4 linked regions of the Homo sapiens genome follow. The protein of the gene in region 1 interacts with the protein of each later gene in a biochemical or structural test. Each region holds a gene or a part of one and is shown on either strand. Other genes may lie near its edges.

Evidence for each region. The genes of interacting proteins can lie anywhere in the genome.
Region 2: the proteins of GNA13 (region 1) and ARHGEF1 form a complex in vitro, tested with the Homo sapiens proteins (one study listed by BioGRID).
Region 3: the proteins of GNA13 (region 1) and PPP5C form a complex in vitro, tested with the Homo sapiens proteins (one study listed by BioGRID).
Region 4: of the proteins of GNA13 (region 1) and PRKCB, one has a biochemical effect on the other in vitro, tested with the Homo sapiens proteins (one study listed by BioGRID).

What each region holds. Positions count from the first base shown.
Region 1 is NC_000017.11:65,048,889-65,053,740, reverse strand, and holds part of GNA13 (guanine nucleotide-binding protein subunit alpha-13), read left to right. Parts: intron 1-12; coding exon 13-239; intron 240-4,852. UniProt on the Homo sapiens protein: Guanine nucleotide-binding proteins (G proteins) are involved as modulators or transducers in various transmembrane signaling systems.
Region 2 is NC_000019.10:41,896,312-41,901,163, reverse strand, and holds part of ARHGEF1 (rho guanine nucleotide exchange factor 1), read right to left. Parts: intron 4,788-4,852; coding exon 4,682-4,787; intron 3,850-4,681; coding exon of another isoform or gene 3,838-3,849; intron 3,219-3,837; coding exon of another isoform or gene 3,051-3,218; intron 2,723-3,050; coding exon 2,577-2,722; intron 1-2,576. UniProt on the Homo sapiens protein: Seems to play a role in the regulation of RhoA GTPase by guanine nucleotide-binding alpha-12 (GNA12) and alpha-13 (GNA13) subunits. Acts as a GTPase-activating protein (GAP) for GNA12 and GNA13, and as guanine nucleotide exchange factor (GEF) for RhoA GTPase.
Region 3 is NC_000019.10:46,387,909-46,392,455, reverse strand, and holds the end of PPP5C (serine/threonine-protein phosphatase 5), read right to left. Parts: intron 4,049-4,547; coding exon 4,008-4,048; intron 3,904-4,007; coding exon 3,725-3,903; intron 2,406-3,724; coding exon 2,324-2,405; intron 2,173-2,323; coding exon 2,110-2,172; 3' UTR 1,481-2,109; downstream 1-1,480. UniProt on the Homo sapiens protein: Serine/threonine-protein phosphatase that dephosphorylates a myriad of proteins involved in different signaling pathways including the kinases CSNK1E, ASK1/MAP3K5, PRKDC and RAF1, the nuclear receptors NR3C1, PPARG, ESR1 and ESR2, SMAD proteins and TAU/MAPT.
Region 4 is NC_000016.10:24,216,611-24,222,091, reverse strand, and holds the end of PRKCB (protein kinase C beta type), read right to left. Parts: 3' UTR 2,132-5,481; coding exon of another isoform or gene 1,979-2,131; 3' UTR 1,481-1,978; downstream 1-1,480. UniProt on the Homo sapiens protein: Calcium-activated, phospholipid- and diacylglycerol (DAG)-dependent serine/threonine-protein kinase involved in various cellular processes such as regulation of the B-cell receptor (BCR) signalosome, oxidative stress-induced apoptosis, androgen receptor-dependent transcription regulation, insulin signaling and endothelial cells proliferation.

The DNA.
Region 1 (4,852 bases):
TTTTAAACAAAGGTATGAGGGTGCTGGTTGATGCTCGAGAGAAGCTTCATATTCCCTGGGGAGACAACTCAAACCAACAACATGGAGATAAGATGATGTCGTTTGATACCCGGGCCCCCATGGCAGCCCAAGGAATGGTGGAAACAAGGGTTTTCTTACAATATCTTCCTGCTATAAGAGCATTATGGGCAGACAGCGGCATACAGAATGCCTATGACCGGCGTCGAGAATTTCAACTGGTAAGAGATTTGCTCTTTTAAAACGTGTGGTTTTATTTTAATGATGTTTAGTAATACAGGTTGCACATCCCTAATGCGAAAATTCGAAATGTTCCCAAATCTAAAAGTATTTGAGATGGAGGAACAGACTGAAAGGCTAAGGCACAGACCTAATGTGTCCTAGTCTCTAATGACTACGTGTAAAAATAGTGTATAAAATTACCTTTAGGCTACATATCTTAAGGTATATATGAAACATAAATGAATTTCTAGTTTAGACTTGAGTCCCATTCCCAGCATATCTCATATGTATGCAGATATTTCAAAAATCTGAAAAAATTCAAAATCCAAAACACTTCTGGTCCCAGGCATTCGGATAAGGGACACTCAACCTGTATCTGATTTTAGCACACTTTTTTCACTGACTTCCATAATTTAATGTATCTATCCAAAATTATAGCCTCAGAAATTTGTTTTTTTGTTTTTGGGGGGTTTGTTTTGAGACGGAGTCTCTGTTGCCCAGGCTGGAGTGCAGTGGTGTGATCTTGGCCCACTGCAACCTCTGCCCCCAGGGTTCAAGCAACTCTCCTGCCTCAGCCTCCTGTGTAGCTGGGTCTATAGGCGCGTGCCACCACACCTAGCTAATTTTTGTCTTTTTAGTAGAGGCAGTTTCGCCATGTTGGCCAGGCTGATCTTGAACTCCTGACCTCAGGTAATGTGCCCACTTTGACCTCCCAAATTGCTGGCATTGTGCCAGGCATTTTTCCCCTTTTTTCTTTAACGAGACTACCCATAAAATGCTTTGTAGCTGTTACACAGCATTGAAGACAGGTTTGGAATAAAAGTATCCAATCCAGGTTAAAGATACAGAATACAGTTGAAACAAATTTTTAATCAAGTGTTTTGTAATTTAACTGTGAATGCTGTGATTGGGTTTTATTTGCCAAAGATCAGAAAGATTCCAGCAGTGATAGAAATCTAGACTGTGTGCAATTTGGAGGTAGTTCAGATCTGAAGTGTTTTACTCTAATATGATTAAAATGAAGTGACAGTTAAAAGTAAAACTGCTGGCTGGGCACGGTGGCTCATGCCTGTAATCCCAGCACTTTGGGAGTCTGAGGCGGGTGGATCACCTGATGTCAGAAGTTTGAAACCAGCCTGGCCAACACGGTGAAACACCGTCTCTTCTAAAAATACAAAAATTAGCCAGGTGTGGTGGCAGGCACCTGTAATCCCAGCTACTCAGGAGGCTGAGGCAGGAGACTCGCTTGAACTCTGGAAGCGGAGGCTGCGGTAAGCCGAGTTCGTGCCACTGCACTCCAGCCTGGGCAACAAGAGCAGAACTCCATCTCCAAAAAAAAAATAAATAAGCTGCTTAGGAAGTTGTTTGATGATGTCACCAACATTAATCCACATTAATGGGTGTGGCTGCAAAGCGATGTACAACCAGCAGTCCTTGCTGTTATTATTTATACTTAGAAGCAGTCTTGCCTTTTAAAAGTTCCAGGAAAGTGTTCACGATAGCTTTTTATAAAACTGACACCTTAATTTTGACTATATCTGAATTATGGCTTTTATATCTGTCATTCAACTAGCATTTGATTATTTACCGTCTTGTATAGTTCTCTTCTATCATGTTTGTATCTTGTCTTTTCAAGTAATGTGTTTATTTCTGAAAGGCAGGGACTGTCTCACATTATTGTTAAAATTACGTAGCTGCCAGTATTGCATGTTGAAAATGATGAATTTAACTTGACAAATGACCTCCATCCAATTCCCAGATTTCTGGTTAGTTTTGTCCCTTGATCAATGTTTATTACTTTATTTTTGGTAGATTTGCTTGCATGAGTTCTTCCATATACCCCTTTCCATCGCCCATCACTCTACCTCCTGTTTTTTGTTTTTTTGCATTTTTTTGAGAGTTTTGTTCTTGTTGCCCAGGCTGGAGTGCAGTGGCGCGATCTTGGCTCACCTCCGCCTCCTGGGTTCAGGCGATTCTCCTGCCTCAGCCTCCCAAGTAGCTGAGATTACAGGCATGCGCCACCACACCTGGCTAATTTTGTATTTTTAGTAGAGACAGTGTTTCTCCATGTTGGTCAAGCTGGTCTCTAACTCCTGACCTCAGGTGATCTGCCTGCCTTGCCCTCCCAAAGTGCTGGGATTACAGGCATGAGCCACTGTGCCTGGCCATCTACCTCCTGTTTTTAAGTGCTGCTTATTCTCCTTTCTTCTTAGTTCATTTTCTCAACAAACCACACACTTTCAACTCAATTTTGTCAGGCTCTATTCATCCTTCCAGGTCAGAGAAGAAACATTCATCTGTAATAAGCATACAGTGCATATGGATTAAATGAATAAATAAAGAACTGCATACCTGAAAGTTCTCTGTGGGGAAGTTCCGTATTTGCCCTAAGTCCATTTAATTAAAGTTGTGTTTCATGGACAGTTTTTTAATTTGGAAGCTGACGTCTAACTGTCTCACATCAGGACTGTCATGTCCTCATTGTTGAGAAAGCATCCCTAAGTATATCTTTGTGATTAAGAACGAATAGGTAAAACCACTCAGGATGAGGACCTGCTTGTTGTTGACTTGAGCCAGTTGATCCTTAAGGAGCAAAGAAGTCCTCAAAGATGAGGAGAGATAAGTTCCAGAAATACTTTTTTCCATGATGAAAAGTAGAGACAAGAAAAGAGGAACAGAGCAAGACCTAATTTTAAACTTCTGGAGGACAGAGATTCTTTTTTCCTGAGTCTACGCTCAGCATTGTTTTTTGTTTTTTTGTTTTTGTTTTTTAAGAGAAGGTCTCACTGTTGCCCAGGCTGGAGTGCCCTGTTGTGATCATAGCTCACTGTAGACTCAACTCCTGGGCTCAAGTGATTCTCCAGCTTCAGTCTCTCAAGTAGCTAGGACTACAGGTGTGTGCCGTCACACCCAGCTAATTTAAAAAAAAATTTTTGTAGAGACGGAGTCTTGCTATGTTGCCAGTGCTGGTCTTGGACTCCTGACCTCAAGCAGTCCTCCTGCCTTGGCTTCCCAAAATGTTGGGATTATAGGCATGAACCACTGTGCGTGGCTTCAGCATTGTTAATAGCACCTGACACATAGAGATGCTCCATTATTATGTTGACTTAATGACTCTTAAACTCTTGGATGTGCTGTGGTGCTTGGCATAGTGTCAGGCACTGAGAAGGCACTTGGCTTACTTAAAATTTTCCTCAAAGTCATCATCAATTCCATCTACTCATCTACATGCAGCAGCTCCCCAAGTTCTGATTTTTCTACCTCTGTAACGTCTCTTGCATTCATTCCCTCCTTTCCTCTATTTTGTGTTCTGCTACCTCTTGCTTGGACTCCAAGGCAGTCTTGTTCAAACACAGCATTGGTTTGCTCAGAAAGCTTTGGTGGCTCACCATTGTCTTCAGAACAGAGCTCAGCTTTTTTGTGGGAGTAAAGACTCTAGCTAGCTTACCTGTGATTCCAGCAATATATTTCATTAGGCCACTGGACATACTCTGTAATCTCTTGATTCCCACATACCCTAATTTTTTGCTTCTATAGCTCTCATCATGCGTAGTCCCTCTGCCAGAATTATTCTTTACCCTATCTGTTACTAGGTCTTACCCTTCACTTAATGTAGTGATAATCACACTAAATGTGGCCCATGGACCCCATGGACTGGAATGCTTGTTAAAACAAACAAGCAGATGCTCAGACTTTATACCTGAGGATCTGATTCTGGATTCTGGGATGGGACCCAGTGATCTGTGTTTTCAGCAAATAGCCATAGGTGGTTTGGATGAATTTGCTCCATGCCCCCTCCCTTTCCCCAGGAACAGTGCCTTAGGGGCTGTGTCTCTTTATTTGAAGCATCTCCAGTCTTCTTGGCTAGAATGGAGATCTCCGTGTCCTTTGCTTTCCCTAGCATGCTTACTCCTGTCACTCCTCACAGTACCCATTATGTGTGTTAGAGTCACAGCTTTCATGTGTGGCTGTCAGTCATGTAGAAGTCCTTTGGTATGCCTAGTTTGTCTTTTTCTCTCCTACTAGCATAGTGCCTGACACTTTTATTTCCTCGTTTTTCAGACATTCTTAATTACAAAGATGTTCTAAAAAAATAAAATACCTGTAATCCCAGCTCTTTGGGAGGCTGAGGCAGGCAGATCACTTGAGGTCAGGAGTTGGAAACCAGCCTGGCTGACATGGTGAAACCCCATCTCTACCAAAAACCAAAACCAAAACCAAAAATTAGCCAGGCATGGTGACATGTACCTGTAGTCCTGGCTACTCAGGAGACTGAGGCACGAGAATCGCTTGAACTCAGGAGGTGGAGGTTGCAGTGAGTGGAGATCATGCCACTGCACTCCAGCTTGAACGTCAGAGTGAGACCCTGTCTCAAAAAAATAAAAATTAAAAAATATGTAATATAATTTAATTCTACATTAAGTTCCTTCTGGGAAATATGGATTATTTCTATAATAGTTTCCTAATTTTCTAGGAAGTGGACAGTTCTTGTGTAATTATAATTTTTATTTGGGGGGGTTGAAATGTGTTTTGTTATGTTTAGCAGCATATTTTTGAATTTTGGATAGGAAAGGTAAACATCAGAAGAAATAGAGGTTAGCAGATAAAATAA
Region 2 (4,852 bases), on another chromosome or scaffold:
AACAAAACAAAACAAACAAATAAAAAAAAAAACTCTCCGGGTGGAGTCATTTGCCCTCTTAAATAGCCACTGAGGGGCCGGGTGCAGTGGCTCATGCCTGTAATCCCAGCAATTTGGGAGGCTTAGGCGGGCAGATCACGAGGTCAAGAGATCAAGACCATCCTGGCCAACATGGTGAAACCCCATCTCTACTAAAAATACAAAAATTAGCCAGGAGTGGTGGTGGGCACCTGTAGTTCCAGCTACTTGGGAGGCTGAGGCAGGACAATCGCTTGAACCTGGGAGGTGGAGGTTGCAGTGAGCGGAGATCACGCCACTGCACTCTAGCCTAGGCGACAGAGCGAGATCGTCTCAAAAAAAAAAAAAAAAAAAAAAAACCAGTGAGGATTCCTCAACCCACTGCCTTTCCCTTTTCGCTGTGGCAGCTGGCCAGAGTGACCAATGGTCCTCATTTGCCTGCCTGGGCTTTCAGTGATAAAACTGTGAATATCCTGAGCAAATGGGGACAAGCTAGTCATCCCACCTGCCAGCAAGCTTGCAGCTGTGTTTAGTGTCTAACCATCAAGCCACATTATACAGTGGTTGACAGCCTCAGATCCAGGGACCCCCACATCCCCGGAGGGCATATGTGTGAGTTTCAGGGGCCCTAGAAGTCCCCTGAGACTAAAAGCACGATTTTGTACATTATGCATATTCTTTCTGGGGAAAGAAATTGCTATCCTGTCCAACGTGATAGTCACCAGCCGTGTACAACTCTTTACATTTTCGTTAATTGCAATGAAATTTTAAGTCAGTGCTCAGTTGTATTTAGTGCTTTTTTTTTGAGACACAGTCTTGCTCTGTCACCTAGATTGAAGTGTGGTGGAGTGATCTGGGTTCATTGCAACCTCCATCTCCTGCTTCCTGGGTTCAAGCAATTCTCCTGGCTTACTCTCTCGAGTATCTGGGATTACAGGCATGCGCCACTATGCTTGGCTAATTTTTGTATGTTTAGTAGAGATGGGGTTTCACCATGTTGGCCAGGCTAGTCTCGAACTCCTGACCTCAAGTGATCTGCCCACCTCGGCTTCCCAAAGTGCTGGGATCACAGGCATGAGCCACTGTGCCTGGCCTAGTGCATTTCAAGTGCTCACCAGCCATAGGTGGCCGATGGTCCCCATGGTGAGCAGTACAAATAAAGCACATTTCCATCTTCCAGAAAGTCCTAATGGGTAGCACATGGCTCATGTTTTTTTTTTTTTTTATCATGTCCTTAGAAGGATCTGTGACCCAAAAAGTACTCAACTACTCCCCTAAAATTTTTGAATAAGTATCTTTTTCACTATGAAGTAATCTGTAAATAAGCTTTCAGTCAAGTCCCAAACCTTTCTCTTGGGCTAGGCACAGTGGCTCACGCCTGTAATCCCAGCACTTTGGGAGGCTGAGGCGGGCGTTCGAGACCAGCCTGACCAACATGGAGAAACCCCGTCTCTACTAAAAATACAAAATTAGCCGGGCGTGGTGGCACATGCCTGTAATCCCAGCTACTCAGGAGGCTGAGGCAGGAGAATCACTTGAACCTGGGAGGCGTAGGTTGTGGTGAGCCGAGATTGTGCCATTGCACTCCAGCCTGGGCAACAAGAGCAAAACTCTGTCTTAAAAAAAAAAAAAAAAAAAAAGCTTTCTCTTTTTGCCACCAGCCTCCCTAGCCACCACACAATTAGCAAAGGAAAAAAGGAAAAAGACAAAAATGATACACTCATCATCTCTCCACGCAGAAGCAAGCACTGCTAATATACTGATCATTCTCCCAAACTTTCCCCTGTGGGGATCTTTTCTCCCCTAAGCAATTAAGATCAAACTAGTAACAACAATCTCATTAAAATGCTCTTCCTTGACTGGGCCTGGTGGCTCACACTTGTAATCCCAAGACTTTGGGAGGCTGAGGTAGGAGGATCACTTGAGCCCAAGGGTTCGAGACCAGCCTGGCCAACATGGCGAAACCCCATCTCTACAAAGAATACAAAAATTAGCCAGGCATGGTGGTACATGCCTGTTCAGCTACTCGGGAGGCTGAGGTGGGAGGATCAGTTGAGCCTGGGAGGGTAAGGCTGCAGTGAGCCGTGATTGTGCCACTGCACTCCAGCCTGAGAGACCAACTGAGACTCTGCCTCAAATAAAAATTTAAAAAAATAAATAAAATAAAATGCTCTTCCTCTGTGCCCAGCACTATGCTAAACATTTCACACAAATCATCTCATCTTCATGACAATATCTGAGGTAGGAACTATTAATGCCCACATTTCACAAGCAAGGAAATAAAAGCTTGCACCAGAAATGCAGTGTTCTCAACATCAGCACTGTATTGCACTACTAGAAATGTTTGGAAATGTCCCTTCCACAGTGGCATTCACATTCCATCAAAATGCTCTGTGTTGAAACAATCTGAACTTGGAACAAGAGGGAATTTGAAGCTGCCTTCAAGTTCTCCCGATGGTAAATGACACCAAGATGAACATCTCTCTGCGCCTGTCTTTGCCTTTGCCAGAGCTGGACTGTGTCCTTGGCCACAGTGGGGTGATGGGGGCAGTACTCACCGCTGATGACCTCCTGCCGCTTCACCTGGCTCTTGGGCAGGCTGTGCAGGGTGTCTGGGGGGACGAGTTCCCGCCAGCCGGGAGGCTCTTCTGGTTCAAGCTCCAGTCCCGACCGCCCCGGCTCCCCCTCATCTCCAGGCTCGGGGCTGTGGACAGAGGCCTTGTTAGGGCCCCAGCTTGGGCCATCCCAAGAAGCAGCCTTCAGCCTCTTAGAGCGTTCAACCCCGGTCAGTGGCCTTGGCATTCGATGCCCGCAGGGTGGCCCGTGCAGCAGACCAGGTCTCTAGATCGGACCACACTAGAGTTCCCAGATCTCTAGAAGCATTCTACCCCCTCCTCCTCCAAGGTCTGTGACCACAGTTGGCCTCAATGACCTCGGTCTCCAACGCCCATTCCTCTGTGACTCTGACAACAATCCCTCCCTGATTCTCCAGGCTGCCTTAGTGGATGGGGGAAGGGAGAGGGTTGACATACGTGGCTCGTCGGGCAGGGCCAAGCACTGCCGTGGCGGAACTGGGGTCCATGTCCACGTCGCTCCGGGAGCGGCCCCCACCCCGGCCCTTAGCCCCGAGGCTGCCCCGGGAAGGCCGGCGGCGGTCACTCACCCGCAGGCTCTCTGAGCGCCCCAGACGCCCTGATAGCCTGGACCCCGAGGCCAAGGACAGAGTCAGGCAGATGCCGGGGACAGAGACAAGGAGAGACCAAGACAAGAACAGAGACGAAGAGAAACCAGGACAGGGACAGAGACGGGGAGAGACCAGGGCAGGGACAGAGGTGGGGAGAGGCCAGGGCAGGGACAGAAATTGGGGAGAGACGAGGACAGGGACAGAGACGGGGAGAGACCAGGACAGGGACAGAGACAGGGAGAGACCAGGACCGGGGCAAGGGTGACCAGGACAGGGATCAAACATGCAACAGAAGAGAGGAGAGAGTCAGAGGAGTGGTGGGATTTTAGGGGCACTGGGGTAGTGGGGGGTCTTGGGGGAGGGGGGATACTGAAATTTGATGGGGGAAGGGATGGGGAACCCAGGATGGAGCATAGGACTGACCCCCTCCCTTCCCTGAGGCAGGGGGATGGCAACAGAGGGGGTGTTATGGGGTGGGGAGGATTTCCATACTTAGCTCTTCAACTGGGAGGGTGATGTCCCCACCCACCCCTCACAGGGAGTGAAGGGGAGGGAGTGGCCATGGGGAGAGGGGAGGGGCTGGGAGAAATGGGGGAGGGGCTAGCCCTTCCCCCACCCAGGGCCCAGGCACCCACCTCTTCCACCTTCTGGGGAGAGAGGGGCACAGGGTCAGAGGTGGGCCCAGATGGAACCTGACCCACCTCCCCGCACCCACCAAAGGGTCCCCAAAGCAGCGGCACAAGGACGGGCAGGAGGCAGAGCCTGCCCCCCAGCTGTAAGGGGGACAGGGCCCCCAGGGCACAGAGCAGAGGGGTGGGGGGTTGAGGGACGGGCACCAGGAGGCAGGAGCGAGGCGGGGGGTGGGGGGCAGGGGGCAGGGGGGCTTGAAAGAGAAGGGGAGGAAGGGCTGAAAAAATGAAAAGTGGCAGGGAGATCGGAGGGGGATGGAAGGTGGGGAAAGAAAACCCAGGTGAGAGAGGAGTGGGGAGGAAAGAGAGGAGGGGGAAGGTGAGAGAGGAGGGGGGAGGTGAGAGAGGAAGAGGGAGGTGAGAGAAGAGAGGGGAGGTGAGAGAGGAGCGGGGAGGTGAGAGGAGGGGGTAGGTGAGAGAGGAGGGGGGAGGTGAGAGAGGATGGGGGAGGTGAGAGAGGAGAGGGGAGGTGAGAGAGGAGGGGGAAATAAAGGAGATGGAAGGAGTGGTGGAGAGGAAGGGAGGAGGAGAAGGATTAGTGAAAAAAGGAAGGAGAGGAAGGAGCAGAGGAAAAAGGAAGGATAAAAGGAAAGGGGGGCAATGAGGAAGCAGGAGGGAGATGAGAAAAGGAAAGAAGAAGGGAGAGGAATGGCCAGACCCAGAGAGCAGCAGAGGAGCATGGGGAGCAAGAGCCTGGGACAGGCAGGCACAGATGGCAGCGGTGACCCTGCACCCACCCACCAGCGCCCAGTAAGCCACACCTCCCGCCCCTGCACCCCAGCCTGGGCACCTCTCGGTTTCGGCCCCCTCGTCGGTACTCTCTGGGGGCGCCAAGGACTCCAGGCTCATTGGGCCCTGCGGGGATGAGTCCCCCAGCTCCAGGGGGGCGTCAGCACCTGTGGGGTGGAGGGAGCAGGGCTGGCTGGAAGGCCTCTGCGGCCACGAGACCCACACTCTGGGG
Region 3 (4,547 bases), on another chromosome or scaffold:
AGGCGTTCCAGTGCCAGCCCAGCTAACAGCCCACAGCAACTGCCGTCACGGGAGTGAGCCCCCACGGAGTCCAGCCGGGCGAGTCTTCAGATGCCTCCAGCCCCAAATGCCCCCGACCACAAATGCCTCAGCCCTCAGGTGCGCCCTGCACGGCCAAGCCCAGCCAATCACAGAACTGAGGAAGACAGCAAGGCATTCGTTGTTGAAGCTGAGGGGGTGGGGGGGGTTAGGGTGTTTGTTATGCAGCTGTGCAGCATGGCTGCAGCCCTGACGGAAGAAAAGGCTGGCTCCTGGGAGGTCACCGGAGAGCCCTCGGTGTGTCCTACCTCATAGGAGCGTCTCTTTATCTGGGGCCCTGGGCCACAGTGGACAGTCTATGCTAAGGATGTGATTTAGGGTGGGGGCCGTGGGTCTCTCTGGAGGCTACGGTCAGCCACGCGGGGTGAGCAGTCCCCATGACCAACCCCTGAAGAAAACCTTGGATGCAGAGGCCCGGGTGAGCTTCCCTAGGTGGCCACACTCCAGCACGCTGTCGCATCCATGCGGGGAAAATAAGCGCTGTCCACACAGCTCCACGGGAGAGGGCAGTGGGACGCTTGCGCCTGCCTCTTCCCTCCTCTCATTCTCATCCCCATATTCTTGCTATAATAGGCCCTCACTGTGAGGATAATGACCATACCGGGTCCTGGGAGACCTCCTGAACTGCAGCGGCAGGGAACCCCGACACCCAGTGAGTCTGAGAGCCTCACAGCTGCCCGCCTGGCTGACTCCCATCAGGTCTGAAGCACCCTCCCGACAGTCATGGTGGCTGTTTTTGTCTTTCCCAGGAGAAATGAATGGCACTGGCAACCTGGGCCTCGTGCCTGTTTTCCTGAAGCCATGTGTACTTGGCTTCTGGACCGTGGCGCACCTGACCCCAGAAGGCGGTGCACTTACTGTAAGGCTGATGGGCCTTAGAGAACACCTCCCCAGCGCCTACGCGCAATCAGGACCGCGGACGCCTCATGTCTGCCTGGGAGGTCTCCAAAGGGCCAAACACTCCCGGACTCGGCCCTGCAGGAGTCATTTGCTGTAGACCATCCCCCAGTGCCACATACCACTGGAGAAAGCTGAGTCCAGAGGAGCTCAAACTTGAAAACACAATCTCTCTGGAGGGTCAAGGCCTGGCAGGGCAGCCTGAATGGAATCCAACGTTACCTGTGACTAAGAGCCAACTGGGAGTGAGACAAGGGTCCTCTGGTCTCCCTGGATGACGGGAGATGCGCGCCTCATCGTGTGATGTCAAGAACCACTGCTGGGCCTACCCTGAGCAGGGAGCAGGGAGCGGCACTGTCATGCTTGTTGCTGGAGCCAGCAAAGGATGAGGCTATGCCTCAGCTTCCGCTCCGCTCCACTCAGTGCTGGCCTCATCGCCCCACCCAGGGGGCAGAACTCTCCCCAGGAGCCCACGGTGCTGGGCAGAGGCAGAGGCCACTTGGGCGGTCAGCCCAGAGCTGGGTGGGCCCGGCCAGCGGGACTTTGCGGCCTCCCCACCCTCCGGATCTCCTGAGCAGGCGTAACCCAACCCGGGCAGCTCCTTCGGCTCCACCATCCAGAGACAAGCTGACTTCCGATAATGACTTTATTTTAACATATTTAATTACAGACATAAAATAGCTGGGGAGGGGGGTGAGCCCCAGCCTAGCCCCACCATGGGGCTATAGGAGGGGAGGCGCAGGCGGGGCCCCCCTGCTGACCCTCTCTCTGGGGGTCTTCCTATGGCGGGGCCCTATTGCTTGAGTGGGGGAGGAGCCATGCAAATGAGGGGGGCAGGGCAGCCACTCGGCCCCACCCCACCCCGAGGACGGCCTCCCCACAGAATGCCCAGGCTGTGCCCCCAGCCCCAGCTGCTCCACCTCCTTCCTCTCTGTCCAGGGAGCAGACCCTCTGGCCAGCCCCTGACTCTGCCCCTACCCCCTCTGCAAACCTAAAGGGGAATAAATACAAACTTTACAAAGTAAAAGGGGGTCCAACATTGCCCTGGGGCGGGGCCTGCTCTGCCCCTAGCCCAGGGCCTGGGTCCGGTGGGATTGGAGGGGCCCTGGGATGCAGGCCGCCCCGCCCGTCACCTCACATCATTCCTAGCTGCAGCAGCGTGTTGGCATAGGCCATGGGCTTGACGTTGGGATGAGGCTGTGGGACCAGGGCAGGTGGGATGGACAGAAGTCAGAACAGAGCCCCTGAGCACCCACCGGCAGAACCTACCCCTGCCCCTTACCAGGGTCTCAGCCTCCTTGTCCCCAGGCCGGGATGGAAGGGGCAGGGGCCCTGAGGGGTGACTCACCACTGCTGTGAACTGGTGGAACTGAGGCCGTAGGTCAGAGCCCTGGAGGTGGATGTAGGAGGCTTTGTTCCCCATCTGGTCGCTGCAGGGACAGGAGCAGAGTGGACAGTGTGGTCAGGGCTGGGTGGGGCTGGTGGGTTAAGAGAAGGAATGGCTGGGCAAGAAGGGACAGAGGGAGAGGGAGGGACAGAGCCACAACAGACACAGATGGACAGAGAGACAGAGATGGGAAAGACGAATCCAGGGGAAAGAATGGGAGGGGCAGGAGGATGGGGATGGGGAAAAGAGGGTGGGAGTGCAGGAAGCAGGAGCAGGAAGGGGCAGGGCATAGCTCATGGAGGTGGATGCTCGCCAGACCCCACTAGGAATCTGACCACGCTTCTAGCTTTGCCCACCCAGAGATGCAGGGAACAGAGGAACATGTCACACGGCACCACGGGGATGCAGTCAGCCTAGTCCAGGACACAGGTGACTCGTACAGCAGGCAGCAACCTATTCTTCAACAAATAAATGATGCGGGTGGGGAGAGACAGGGAACTCACAGGCAAAGAGACTGAAAATGTGGTCCTTGTTTAGGTCCTGTCTGGAAGAAGTCAGCTGGAAAAGACACTTAGGAGAGACCAGGAGAAAGAGAACTTGGCAGGATTCGGGTGGGGGCAAGGGATCAACACTGTGTGTGTGTGTGTGTGTGTGTGTGTGTGTGTGTGTGTGTGTGTGTGTGTGTGTGTGTGTGTGTGTGTGTGTGTGTGTGTGTGTGTGTGTGTGTGTGTTTTGAGATGGAGTCTTACTCTTGCCCGTGTGCGTGTGTTTTGAGATGGAGTCTTACTCTTCCCCAGGCTGGAGTGCAGTGGTGCAATCTCAGCTCACTGCAACCTCTACCTCCCGGGTTCGAACAATTCTCCTGACTCAGCCTCCTGAGTAGCTGGGATTACGGGTGTGTGCCACCACGCCCTGCTAATTTTTGTATTTTTAGTAGAGATGGGGTTTCACCATGTTGGCCAGGCTGGTCTCAAACTCCTGACCTCAGGTGATCCGCCCACCTCGGCCTCCCAAAGTGCTGGGATTATAGGCGTGAGCCACCATGCCCAGCCAGCACTCAAAAGTGTAAACACGATATTGTGGTTAAGAAAAAGATCCCTTTCCTTCTGAAAAGTGCTGGGCAATCAGTGGGAGAAAGGTGAAGTGCCAGGGGCTTGCTGTAACACAGGGCAGCTGGTCAGCACTCACAGGCTGGCCCCACTGGTGCTGCATGGGTGGGTGACACATACGGGGGTGTTCGTCATGTTCTTTTATCTGCTCTTGCCTGTCTTTGAAATGTTCCATCATAAAAAGGCAAAACAAAAACCAAGACAAAAACCCGTGGCTTGGTAGAGGCCCTGGGCTGGAAAGGCAAAGACATACCAGTAGTTGGGGGCAGAGAAGACGGTGACACAGCGGCCTCCGTGAGCCACCTCGTAGCCCTCGGCCTTGACTTCGTGGCTGCGGATGATATAGTCCAGGTTGTTCTCTTCCAAGAAGGCCTTGGTGACGTCAGGCCCAAACTGACAGCTCACGCCCCGCTTGCTGATCGAGCGCCCGTTCTGAGGGTGGGCAGAAGGGAGAGACAGGGGTTCAGGGTGACTGTCTGCCTCCACCTGCTGCCACAGCCCACACCCGCCGGCCCTGCACCCCACCCTAGACTCACCTGTGGCTGTGGATCTGACCAGAGCAGGTCACACATGGGCCCTGGTGGGGAGCGAGGGAAACATTAGGGACTCGTCCACCTCCCCGGGGGTGGTCACTCACAGGCCACCTCCTGGCCCGGCCAGGTGCTGACCCCACAGCCCAGCCTGGGTGGGTGTTGGGCAGGGGACATCCAGCATGGACATGGACATTCAGGACAGGTGACTGTGATTCTGAGCCACCCCCACCCTCTCTGCTGATCTGCCCTCCAGACCCCATTCAATCCCCTGTGGCCCCGAAGCCAGATAGAGCTTTCAATGTCACTATTCAGATCAGGCCCCTCTCCCACTCAAAGCCTTTGGTGGCTCCGCACTGCCCTAGGAACAAAGTTCCTCACTGGGGCCTGTAAAGCGCCATAGGATTTGGGCCCAGTGAACCCCATGTCCAATGTCAGCCCTCAAAGCACAGCCCTGCCCACTCGCCAACTTCTCCCTGCCTTAGGACCCCTCCTCAAGCCTGGAATATGCTCGCCAGGCTCTGTGCACGGCAGATGCCTCTGCTT
Region 4 (5,481 bases), on another chromosome or scaffold:
GCTCACACTCTTTCTCACTGGACATGATCCTAGAAGGATTAGAGGCCAGGATTTCTGCAGCCATGTTGTCCCTACAAGTGGGGAGTCCTGAACTATCTTATTGGTCTCTATAACACCAGTATCCAGAACTGTGCTTGGCTCAGAGTCGGGGCTCAATATTTATTAAATGAAAGATGGGTTTATATCTGGCAGAGGGGGAAAGTTTGAGAAGCTGGCATGGAATGAGGAGGAATAAGAGGCAGCAATGGTAACCTCTTCTATATAATACTGTCTTAAATGGGATGCATGTTCAAACATCTGTAGAATCCCAGGTATTTTTGTTTTCTAAATGTGATGCCTAGAACACTGTTTCTTCCTGAAGTTTAAATGGGCTTCAGCCAACTTTAACTGGCAGACTTTCTAAAATTCTGCAAAGATTAGTGCACTAGGTAAGATCAATGGATTCACTGTATCTTTCCAATGCTCCATTTACTGAGGCTCTTTCAAGAAGGGAAGAGATGAATACACTCTGTAGAGAGTCATAATGTACATAGTGTGAACACATTTGCTCTTTTCTGCTACCCACTAGCCTTAGCAGCTACAAAGGCATGTGCTACAGATTGGATTACTATATCTTTTGAAAAGAAAATAGAAGCATGACTTCATTCAGAGAAGAAGGTATTAGATTGACACCCAGTGACTCAGTACTGTGCCACTCTGCTCTGAGAGAGTGCGGGTCCTTATCATGCCAGCAGGGTTTAGAAGCAGTCTCCCTTATTTCTCCCTCTTCTCTTGGGCCTCCCTGGACAAGCGGTTGAAAAAAAAAATGGCTTATACTCCCCCCCCTCTTTTTTTGGCAGGTGCTTAGCTAAATTAGGAGAATATAAGTCAAAGGTAAGTCGTTTTACAAATAGCAACATCCTCATGGACAACAAACAAAGGATTCTCTCTGCACTGACACCAGCCTCTTTCCTGACTTTTGTCATGGCTGGAATAAAATCTTACATATCTTGTGCTTGATACATAGCTTAATAAACACGAATCACATTGAGTGGGTGGCTGCACACATACCCTGATTAGGGGCACAAGAAAATATTAAGGTCCTCAAACCTGTGACTCACGAATGACAGAGGTTTCAACCTCAAGTGGCTATAGCAGCCAGGGAAGTGGATGGAGGGTATAAGACAATAGGGGGTGGTGGAGACTGTGGCAAAATGAGAACATACACTGCTTTTAAAGGAGAAGCATTTCTCAGTTCTGTAGAATTATTTCCATGTGGAAATACAGGCTCAGAGCTGCTAGTCTTTTGTTTCTTTTTTCAAGGGAATCTAAAAGTCCAGGAATTTATATAAAGTATCTTATTTTGTCATGTTCACAATGGTTTTGATTAAGTAAAATTCCATGTGAGTAAAATTAAGCTTATCTAATGGCTACAAACTGGATCTTCAGTCTGTAACCTCTGTAACATAGTCTATTTAAGAAAAGACATATAAACAAGAGCTTGCATATATTAATTCAGTTTAATCATATCAATTCTTAAACAAAAAACTTCCTCCAAGAGACAATAGTTCACAGTAACTGCAAAGCTTACTCACAATTTTTAAAAATATCGCTCATGCTTAGCATTCAAAGAAGATATTATAGAATAACTGTAAAAACTTTTACCAGGAACATCAGCTTCTGACTTGAAAAATTACAAATACTGAAGCATTTTGGTATCAGACACAGTAGTTTTGACATTGTCTGTTCATTTGATGAGTTTCTGGAAGTTTGGAAAATTGTACCTCTATAATTGGATAATGCGCTTATTCTAAACTAAACATTTTCAAATGTAGAAAACAAACTAGCAAGCTACACATACAAAGAAAAGCCCTCTAAGACAAGCTTTCCACATGTTGAATGCCAGCATGTGCACCGTGAATCCTGGAAGACTAGAATTGATACATACGCTTGGCTTGAAGTCTTACACCCCAGGCTCAACGATGGAGTTTGCATTCACCTACACATTAATGACAAACTCTGGGTTAGTATAAGAGAAGCCAGCAAATTCATTTTGGTCCAAGTTCATGATGAAGAGTTTATCAGTGGGGGTCAGTTCCACAGGCTGTCTGGTGAACTCTTTGTCGAAGTTGGAGGTGTCTCTCTTGTCTCTCTGCCAAATGGAAAGTAAACACATTAACACAGCGTAAGAAGAAAGACACAGGACCAAGATACGCCAGTCATTGGGTGGCTGATACCATCTCATGAGCAGAGTCAGAAAGAGCCCTGTGCTGAAAATTTTTAGCAGCTGCACTCCACGCACTGGCTTTCATTTCACATTGTATGTTGGCTTGGGGATAGAAATGTGGTGGAAATTTTCTAAGAAAAGAAGTAAGTCATTGAATGTCAGTTAAGAATTGCCATAAAGTGGTGTGTGTGTGTGTGTGTGTGTGTGTGTGTGTGTGTGTGTGTGTGTGTTGCTGTATTTTCTTTGGCTTTAGGATGAATTGAATTGGAAGCTACTTATTACCATGCTTAATGTTATAGAAATAATCATTAGGTAGAGCGTCCTGGAGAAAACCATTCAGTAGCAGCCCAGGTGGCTAGAAGACCTCTTTCTCTGAAAAGGTGAACTGCTGCCCATCTACTCTGCCCCCAAGAAGGCAGAATGGCCATGTGGAGAAATCAGATCACTGCTTAATGAAAGGAATTGACCACCGTCAGCTCGAAAATCCACCCACAGTCTAGAATTGGGTGTTTATCAGGCAGAAGTTCTCTCCAAAGACATTTTTAGCATGTGTCAACAAACTATAAGAGAGAAAACCCAAAGCTTAAAGGAGGGTGTGTAAGGGGAGCCTTAAAACAAAACAAAACAAAACAAAACAAAAGAAACTCAAAGCAACTCGATTCTCCTAGTAAGTCTGGCATTTCTTTTTTTGTTCAGTAGGGAGGTGGAGAAGAAATTAACCCCCATTTACTAGCAATTGCTTGGGGCAAGTCTCACCAGGGAACATCAGAATGTGGGCTAATAAAGGAATCTGTATGATGCTCCGACCTCTTCAGGGTCCTTGCAAGCCTCTTGTCTTTCCTCATCATCACCACACCCACCTGGGGCAGGTGGAGCTGGAGTCCTCACCTCCTATATATGACATATGAGAGAACCGAGGCACAAGCAGGCAGGGTGGCTTGCCCAAGATTTCAGTGGGTTCCTGATTTTTACCTGACCACATCGCTGCTATGTAGGCCTCATCACAGTCTCTCGGACTGGAGGGACAACCCCATGGCTGTTTTATTACAAGACAACCAGGGAAGAAGGCCTTGTATTCCCTAGTGCCCTGCACATTCCCGGGCTGCAGCCAAAGTTGCCTCAGATTATAAAGGCCAGGGGGTCGGTAAGGATTCACTGACTCATTAGCGTTTGAGCCATCACCACCCAGGCTTTAGGTTTAGCCCCCTAATGGGCACTAGCTGTTAAGGATCTCTCATTGCTGGGTTCACTCTCCTTTGCAAAAGACCTTTTACAAGACTTGCTTCTTTGTGGCTGCTCCCCTGAGATAGGTAAAATGTCTCTATGGAGTTCCCTCCTTACTCTTGCCAAGTCTATGTGAGGGTGTGGGAGTGAGGTGGGCACACTGAACTCAGGAGCACACGTGGGTATGTGTGGCTAGAGTGGGGCAGGCTAAGATGCTGATGGAGCTGTTTCCTGGGTAGGGTCCATCTCTACCATGTCCCACCTGCCCTTTTTGTCTTGTCCTGCTTGCTGTTAGCCTGTGGGGTGCTATAGGAGTTTCCATCCCCCAGGCGCTCGGCATGTTACTTCCGGTGTTCACAACAAAGCTCGAATGCCTCCTCTTTAATATTGTCTGTGCATCTCTCTCCCAATCCCCACAAGTCACACTTTAGCATCCTTTAATTATCTTGATTGCACTTATTGCTTTCAGAAATTGTCTTGTTTATTTATTATTTCTCTCCAAGAAACAATATTCTTGGAGAATTTCTTGGAGAGAAACAATAAACAGGGTCCTCATCTGCTTCTTCACTAGTGTATTTCCAGTGCTAAGAATAGTGCCTGGCACACAGTAGGTTGTTTGTAATTATTTGTGGAATGAAGGAAGACTTGGGATATGCCTCTATCCTTTTTGCAACTTATAATTGTCCCCGAGCCAGAAACTTTACTCTGAGGCAAAACAATGGAATTGATTCCCATTGATCCTAAAGGTCTCCCAAATGGGCCACTGTCCCTTTTGAACCCCTGTATGAACTGAACTGTGTTAGGGCCCCTAAAGGTCTGAGAACTCCAGGACAGTGTGTGAGCTAAAAGGCAGGTATATTTGGAGCTAGAAGACACAAAGCTGCCTTTTTTTTAGGTCTCCCCTGGTCTCATCAACCCTATTTCGCTTTCCCTGCCTGTGGGCCTCTTATCAAAGATTCCCTTCTGACCAGCCCCACCTTGGAAAGCCCTGCCCCGTTTGTTGTGCTGGTGATGGCTAATGCTTCAGATAACCACATGGTCCAGACAGGACTTGCTTTTATGGACTTTGTCCTGTGGGCAGATCCCCAGAGAAAATACTCCTGGATTTTACCGTAGAAGTTGGGAGAGAATAAGCTTCTCTGTTGAGATCATTTCTTTGAGGTTGATAGCATCTGAAGCCATGTGAAAACAGTAGCACTCATCCAAGGAGGGTTATTAATTCTACTGACCTCCCATTAATCCCCCAAGAAGGTCCTTGTTGCTATGGCCCTGTCCTCTCTTCAAAAAGCTCTGTTTCTCAGTTTCTTCTGCACTGGAAATGTGGATAGAAAAGGAAGTGGTAGAAATTCTGACTTTCCATGGAAAGTTTCTCTAAAACAGACTTTGGCTTGAGTATCTATTTCTGCAAACTATTAAACTTTTGAAAAATAATGGCAAGAATTTGGAAAATGTTGAGTGCAGTATTTATAACACTATATTCCTTCCTTCCTTCCTTCTTTTCCTTCCTTCTTTCCTTCCTTCCTTTCTCTTTCTTTCTTTCCTTCTTTCTTTTTCTTCTTTCTTTCCTTTCTTTCTCTTTCCATTCATCCTACATTGTTTTCTAAAGTTGTCTCAGATCATTTGTCAATGGCCTAGTGTTTCTCCATGGTTTTTATCTTCCTGAGAGCATGTCCAAGCAAAATGGGATCATGATCCAACCACCAGATAAGGGCCTGTTGGTGGGCCTGGCTCAGAGATGTCTGCTGCCTTGCTACAGAGCAGAAAGCACCCTGCACTTTCTGGACAGGACACCCAGGTTTTTATCCCAGCTGACTGACTTTGGGCAAATTCCTTCCTCTTTCCAGATGCCAGTTTCTCAACAATAAAGTGAGGGAGCTTTGCTCCGATTTCCCTCCTTCTCTTACTGCCTAAACTTGTCAGATAGAACTTCAAGTTTGCTTCACCTTAGGTCCTGATTGCCACCACAGTGGGGACAGCAGGGACGGTCCCCAAGCCTGAAGCAAGAAGAGGACAGAGAAGGATGAACTGCAGGAGACTTTGCCTAAGCAGAA